2 linked regions of the Homo sapiens genome follow. The protein of the gene in region 1 interacts with the protein of each later gene in a biochemical or structural test. Each region holds a gene or a part of one and is shown on either strand. Other genes may lie near its edges.

The links.
Region 2: the proteins of RNF135 (region 1) and DHX58 are reported together in a solved structure, tested with the Homo sapiens proteins (one study listed by BioGRID).

Annotation. Positions count from the first base shown.
Region 1 is NC_000017.11:30,977,241-30,981,048, reverse strand, and holds part of RNF135 (E3 ubiquitin-protein ligase RNF135), read right to left. Parts: intron 1-3,808.
Region 2 is NC_000017.11:42,106,121-42,109,928, forward strand, and holds part of DHX58 (ATP-dependent RNA helicase DHX58), read right to left. Parts: intron 3,267-3,808; coding exon 3,150-3,266; intron 1,989-3,149; coding exon 1,862-1,988; intron 1,676-1,861; coding exon 1,484-1,675; intron 1-1,483.

The sequences.
Region 1 (3,808 bases):
TGGCGTGATCTCGGCTCGCTACAACCACCTCCCAGCCGCCTGCCTTGGCCTCCCAAAGAGCCGAGATTGCAGCCTCTGCCCGGCCGCCACCCCGTCTGGGAAGTGAGGAGCTTCTCTGCTTGGCCACCCATCGTCTGGGATATGAGGAGCCCCTCTGCCTGGCTGCCCAGTCTGGAAAGTGAGGAGCGTCTCTGCCCGGCCGCCATCCCATCTAGGAAGCGAGGAGCGCCTCTTCCCCGCCACCATCCCATCTAGGAAGTGAGGAGCGTCTCTGCCCGGCCGCCCATCGTCTGAGATGTGGGGAGCACCTCTGCCCCACCGCCCTGTCTGGGATGTGAGGAGCGCCTCTGCTGGGCCGCAACCCTGTCTGGGAGGTGAGGAGCGTCTCTGCCCGGCCGCTCCGTCTGAGAAGTGAGGAAACCCTCTGCCTGGCAACCGCCCCGTCTGAGAAGTGAGGAGCCCCTCCGTCCGGCAACCACCCCGTCTGGGAAGTGAGGAGCGTCTCCGCCCGGCAGCCACCCCGTCCGGGAGGGAGGTGGGGGGGGTCAGCCCCCCGCCCGGCCAGCCGCCCCGTCCGGGAGGTGAGGGGCTCCTCTGCCCGGCCGCCCCTACTGGGAAGTGAGGAGCCCCTCTGCCCGGCCGCCCCTACTGGGAAGTGAGGAGCCCCTCTGCCCGGCCAGCCGCCCCGTCCGGGAGGGAGGTGGGGGGCTCAGCCCCCCGCCCGGCCGGCCGCCCCGTCCGGGAGGTGAGGGGCGCCTCTGCCCGGCCGCCCCTACTGGGAAGTGAGGACCCCTCTGCCCGGCCAGCCGCCCCGTCCGGGAGGGAGGTGGGGGGGTCAGCCCCCCGCCCGGCCAGCCGCCCCATCCGGGAGGTGAGGGGCTCCTCTGCCCAGCCGCCCCTACTGGGAAGTGAGGAGCCCCTCTGCCCGGCCAGTCGCCCCGTCCAGGAGGGAGGTGGGGGAGTCAGCCCCCCGCCTGGCCAGCCGCCCAGTCCGGGAGGGAGGTGGGGGGTCAGCCCCCCGCCCGGCCAGCCGCCCCGTCCGGGAGGGAGGTGGGAGGATCAGCCCCCCGCCTGGCCAGCCGCCCCGTCCGGGAGGTGAGGGGCGCCTCTGCCCGGCCGCCCCTACTGGGAAGTGAGGAGCCCCTCTGCCCGGCCAGCCGCCCCGCCCGGGAGGGAGGTGGGGGGGTCAGCCCCCCCGCCTGGCCAGCCGCCCCATCCGGGAGGGAGGTGGGGGGGTCAGCCCCCCGCCCGGCCAGCCGCCCCGTCCGGGAGGGGGGAGGGGGGTCAGCCCCCTGCCCGGCCAGCCGCCCCGTCCGGGAGGGAGGTGGGGGGGGTCAGCCCCCCGCCCGGCCAGCCGCCCCGTCCGGGAGGGAGGTGGGGGGGATCAGCCCCCCGCCTGGCCAGCCGCCCCGTCCGGGAGGTGAGGGGCGCCTCTGCCCGGCCGCCCCTACTGGGAAGTGAGGAGCCCCTCTGCCGGGCCAGCCGCCCCGTCCGGGAGGGAGGCGGGGGGGGGGGGTCGGCCAGCTGCCCCGTCCGGGAGGGAGGTGGGGGGGGTCAGCCCCCCTTCCGGCCGGCCGCCCCGTCCGGGAGGTGAGGGGCGCCTCTGCCCGGCCGCCCCTACTGGGAAGTGAGGACCCCTCTGCCCGGCCAGCCGCCCCGTCCGGGAGGGAGGTGGGGGGGACAGCCCCCCGCCCGGCCAGCCGCCCTATCCAGGAGGTGAGGGGCGCCTCTGCCCGGCCGCCCCTACTGGGAAGTGAGGAGCCCCTCTGCCTGGCCAGCCGCCCCGTCCGGGAGGGTGGGGGGGGGGGTCAGCCCCCCGCCCGGCCAGCCGCCCCATCCGGGAGGTGAGGGGCGCTTCTGCCCGGCCGCCCCTACTGGGAAGTGAGGAGCCCCTCTGCCCGGCCACGACCCCGTCTGGGAGGTGTGCCCAGCAGCTCATTGGGGATGGGCCATGATGACAATGGCGGTTTTGTGGAATAGAAAGGCGGGAAGGGTGGGGAAAAAATTGAGAAATCGGATGGTTGCCGGGTCTGTGTGGATAGAAGTAGACATGGGAGACTTTTCATTTTGTTCTGTACTAAGAAAAATTCTTCTGCCTTGGGATCCTGTAGATCTGTGACCTTATCCCCAACCCTGTGCTCTCTGAAACATGTGCTGTGTCCACTCAGGGTTAAATGGATTAAGGGCGGTGCAAGATGTGCTTTGTTAAACAGATGCTTGAAGGCAGCATGCTCGTTAAGAGTCATCACCACTCCCTAATCTTAAGTACCCAGGGACACAAACACTGCGGAAGGCCGCAGGGTCCTCTGCCTAGGAAAACCAGAGACCTTTGTTCACTTGTTTATCTGCTGACCTTCCCTCCACTATTGTCCTATGACCCTGCCAAATCCCCCTCTGCGAGAAACACCCAAGAATGATCAATAAAAAAAAAATAAAAAATAAAAAATAAATAAAAAAAAGAAATAATTAAAAATCAAGCAGAAATTCTGGAATCGAAGAATGCATCTGACATACTGAAGAATGCATCAGAGTCTCTCAATAGCAAAATCGATCAAGTATTAGAAAGAATTAGTGAGCCTGAATTCAGCCTATTTGAAAATACACAGTAAGAAGAGACAAAAGAAAAAAGAGAATGAAGCATGCCTACAAGATCTAGAAAATGGCCTCAAAGGGGCAAATCTAAGAATTATTGGCCTTAAGAGGAGGTAGAGAAAGAAATAGTGGTAGAAAGTTTATTCAAAGAAATAATAGCATGGAACTTCCCAAATCTACAGAAAGACATCAATATCTACATACAAGAAGGTTATAAAACACCAAGCAGATTTAACCCAAAGAAGACTATGTGAAGGCATTTATAATAAAACTCCCAAAGGTTAAGGTTAAAGAAAGGATCCTAAAGCAGCAAGAGAAAAGAAATAAATAATATACAAGGGAGTTCCAATACATCTGGCAGCAGACTTTTCAGTGGAAACCTTATAGGCCAGGAGAAAGTGCCATGACATATGTAAAGTGCTGAAGGAAAAAACTTTTACCCTAGAAAACTATAATTTGTGAAAATAGCTTTGAAACATGAAGGAGAAATAGACTCTCCCAGACAAACAAAAGCTAAGGGATTTTATCAACACCAGACCTGTCCTACAAGAAATGCTAAAGGGAATACTTCAATCAAAAAGAAAAGAAGGCCAGGCGCAGTGGCTCATACTTGTAATCCCAGCACTTTGGGAGGCCACGGCGGGTGGATCACCTGAGGTCAGGAGTTCGAGACTAGCCTGGCCAACATGGTGAAACCCCGTCTCTGCTAAAAATACAAAAATTAGCCGGGCGTGGTGGTGGGCGCCTGTAATCCCAGCTACTCCAGAGGCTGCGGCAGGAGAATCGCTTGAACCCAGGAGGTGGCCTGTAATCCCAGCACTTTGGGAGGCTGAGGTGGGCAGATCACTTGAGGTCAGGAGTTCAAGACCAGCCTGGACAACATGATGAAACCCTGTCACTACTAAAAATACAAAAATTAGCTGGGCATGGTGGCGCATGCCTGTAGTCCCAGCTACTCGGGAGGCTGAGACAGGAGAATTTCTTGAACCCAAGAGGTGGAAGTTGCAGTGAGCCGAGATCACGTCACTGCACTCCAACCTGGGCAACAGAGTAAAACTCTGTCTCAAAACAAAACAAAACAAAACAAAAACCTCACTAGTAATAGTAAGGTCACAGAAAACCAATAAAAAATAACTACAACAACTTTCAAACATATAGATAGTATAAGATATACACAGAAATAACAAAAAATTAAATAGCAGGGGATGAATTTGAA
Region 2 (3,808 bases), about 11 Mb from region 1:
TGCACTCCAGGCTGTGTAACAGAGTGAGACTCTGTCTGGGAAAAAAAAAAAGAAAGCAAGAAAGCAAGAGAAAGAGAGAGAGAGAAAGAGAGAAGGAAAGAAAGGGAGGGAGGGAAAGAAAGAAAAAAAGGAAAAGAAAGAGAGAGAGAAAGAGAGAAGGAAAGAAGGGAAGGAGGGAAGGAAGGGAGGGAGGGAGGGAAAGAAAGAAAGAGAAAGAAGAAAAGCCCCAGAGGCAGAGGATTCAGATCTTGGAGTGGGGAGGGCACTGGCGGAGGAGGTTCTCACAGCAATAGGACTGTAGGCGTGCAGAAGGTGGGGGGTGGGGGGTGGGGGAAGGATGGAACTCCTGCTCAACTCCCCCACAGCAGCACCAAGAACATATTTAAGGATGCCCTGGCCGGGTGCATTGGCTCACGCCTGTAATCCCAGCACTTTGGGAGGGTGAGGTGAGCGGATCACCTGAGGTCAGGAGTTCGAGACCAGCCTGACAAATATGGTGAAACCCCGTCTCTACTAAAAATACAAAAAAATTAGCTGGGCGTGGTGATGCACACTTGTAGTCCCAGCTACTCGGGAGGCTGAGGCAGGAGAATCACTTGAACCCAGGAGGGGGAGGTTGTAGTGAGCTGGGATGGTGCCATTGCACTCCAGCCTGGGCGACAGAGCGAGACTCCCTCTCAAAAAAACAAAAACAAAAACAAAAAAGGATGCCTCCTACCGAGCCCACTCTCAAGGCCAGCCTCACACCGGGGTCATACAGTACAGAACCTCAGACCAGAACCCTCTTCTCCCCAGTGACCAGGATGACCCTTGAGCTTTTAACTCTGACCTCTGCTACCCAGATCTCTTGAGCCCCAGCCTGTGCTGCGATTTGCAACCTTAAATTTCACCCTCTGACTTTCAGCTTCACTCTCTCAGTCTAAAGGAACCACTCCTAGCTAATCCTTTTAAAAAATCTGGGCCGGGCACAGTGGCTCACACCTGTAATCCCAGCACTTTGGGAGGCAGAGGCAGGAGGATCACTTGAGCCCAGGAGTTAGAGATCAGCCTGGGCAACAAAGCAAGACTCCGCCTCTTCAAAAAAAATTTTTTTTAATTAGCTGGGAGTGGTGGTGCCCACCTGTACGCCTAGCTACTTGGGAAGCTGAAGGGTGAGAATTACTTGAGCCCATTAGGTCGAGGTTGCAGTGAGCTATGATTGCACAACTGTCCTCCAGCCTGGGTGACAGAGCAAGACCCCGACTATTAAAAAAAAAAAAAAAGTCAACAATGTTAATTAATTTTAACAACTAAGCAAAAACCTTCACAAATGAGGAAATAAATCAGTCCTACCCATGGCCTTGGATTTTGGTTAGAAAAATAGGATCTCCACCAGTATCCTCACGGGCACCTTCCCATCCGACCTTGGCGCCTGTGCCCTGGCCTCTGACCTCGCATCCAGGTCCCATCATCCCCGGCCCCGAAGCCCCCTCCCGCCCCTCACCATCGAACAGGGCCAGCAGCCGGCGCTCGGCACACAGGATCTGGGTTTTAGTGACGTGCTCCCTGTGATAGAAATCCTGCAGCGCAGCCAAGGCATCCACGGCGCGGACGGTGTCATGGATGAGCAGCGCGTCATTGTAGCGCCTCAGGTGAAGCGCATACACCCGTTGCTCCTGAAGCCCAGCCAAAGCCGCTGCGGGAAGAGGGCGCAGGGTCTGAGCAGCCCACAGCCCCGCCCCCTGCCCTGCCCCATAGGGCCGTCCCACTCGACTCCACCCCTGGGGTGGATAGGCCCCGCCCCAAAGGCCTCCGCCCCGGCAGGCCCCGCCCCTGACCACTCCCACATCCTCGCCTCCGCCAGAAGGGCTGCCCCTCTCACCAGCCTCACTCAGCTTCACCACCTGCTGCTCATACATTTGCGTCCCAAATTTCCGGCTCAACTCAGGCATCTCCAGGTGGTCATGGATTTGGTCCATGAGCTTCTTCAGCAAGTCCCCAAACGGATCCTGAGCAAGAGGAGAGTTGGAGGGGATTCCCATACACGTTGGAGGATGGGCACCCAGTGGGGGTGCTGACCCCGGCGTGTAGCACACCGCGACTGCCTCACCCATCTGTCTTAGCTGTGGTGTGAGCTCCAGAGGGAGGCCGGCTAGGGTGTGGGGGAGTCCTGCCCTGTCTCACCCGCGATGTGCTCTTACCCTTTGGCCTGGGCACGGTGATGCCTAGTGTAAGGCACATGGACGTGCTTTGGTCAAGGAATAGGCCGAGGCGGACATCCGGGCCAGAGTGACTCAGCGAGTTTGGGGGGCAGGCACGTACTCCACTTGCTATATAACCTGTTTGTGTAAGTTCATACTGGACTCTACTGTCAGTAGAAGGTAAAACTGCCCTGCTGACGCTGTTCACGGAGCTTGGTTCAGCTCGGCACGGCAGGGCACGCTTGCTCGCCCAGAGAGAGAATAATGCTACTAACCCCTGCAAGGGACAGCCGGTCGCCTTGAAGGTGGGCAGTGGGGAGCCAGGAACCCGCTTGTGCCCAGAGGGAAAGAGTTAAGCTGCTGACCCTGACAGAGCTGGCCTTGCCGGCCAGGGAGAGCAGCTGCAGGCGTGGGGGCAGCAGGAGCCACAGGGCCGGAGCAGACAGCCCAGATAAAGGTGGACAGTGTGAGAGAGCCGCTGCTGAATAAAACTACATTTCACCTGCCTATGGCCCCCCAAGGGTTCTTTCAGCTATCTGCTCACTCACTCCCTCCCTCCAGACCACAGCATGGGCTCAAACCTGACCCCAAGTGTAACATTTGGTATAGTTATGGACCTGACACCTAGTCCTTGTCCAGTCCAGTCATGGCAGACACGAGGCCGTGTCCACACTAGAGAGGGCTCAGTAGAGCCTCAGCACAAAGTATCCCTGCTCTCTGGTTTGTAGTGCACTCCCCAGCATGACAGTGATGTGACAGACACCAGTGGTGCCTTCTGAGTCAATCCAAAGAGCGGGCTGTGGGCATGGGCTGTATCTGCCCCATTTCACAGAAAGGAGAAATTGAGGCTTGGATACATAGCAAGTGACCTGAAGTCACAGAGCTAGTGAGGGCAGAGTCAGGGCCCAAGCCTAGGTGTCCTAACTTCACACCGGCTCCCGCTCTCGCCGTGTCCCTGCCCCCGCGTACCTGGCTGCGCCTGTGGCAGAGGTTGTACTGTTTGCAAGGCTGTTGGCTGTGCTCCTGCAGCTGGGGGCAGCAGTTCTGGGGTGACATGATGCACCACGTGTCCAAGTTGGCACAGAGCTGGGGGCAACAGAGGACTTTACTGGAAAGGGAGGGTCTGTGGGGACAATGGTCAAAGATTTGGGGCAGGATGGATCCCAGCTGAGGACAGGAGAATGTGGGCATTCGTCTACTCAAATATTGCTCGCCCTCTCTGTGCCCGTCTTGTTCTAGGCACTGGGGATACAAAGGAACTCAGATTGGAGTTGGAGAGGCAGATAATAAACCAGTAAAAGAATAATAGAACCGGCCAGGCATGGTGGCTCACACCTGTAATCCCAGCACTTTGGGAGGCCAAGGCGGGCGGGTCACCTGAGGTCAGGAGTTTGAGACAGCCTGGCCAACGTGGTGAAACCCCACCTCTACTAAAAATACAAAAATTAGCCAGGCATGGTGGCACGCGCCTGTAGTCTCAGCTACTCGGGAGGCTGAGACAGAAGAATCACTTGAACCCGGGAGGTGGAGGTTGCAGTGAGCCAAGATCGTGCCACTGCACTCCAGCCTGGGTAACAGAGACTCCGTCTCAAAAAAAAAAAAAGAGGCTGGGCACAGTGGCTCACGCC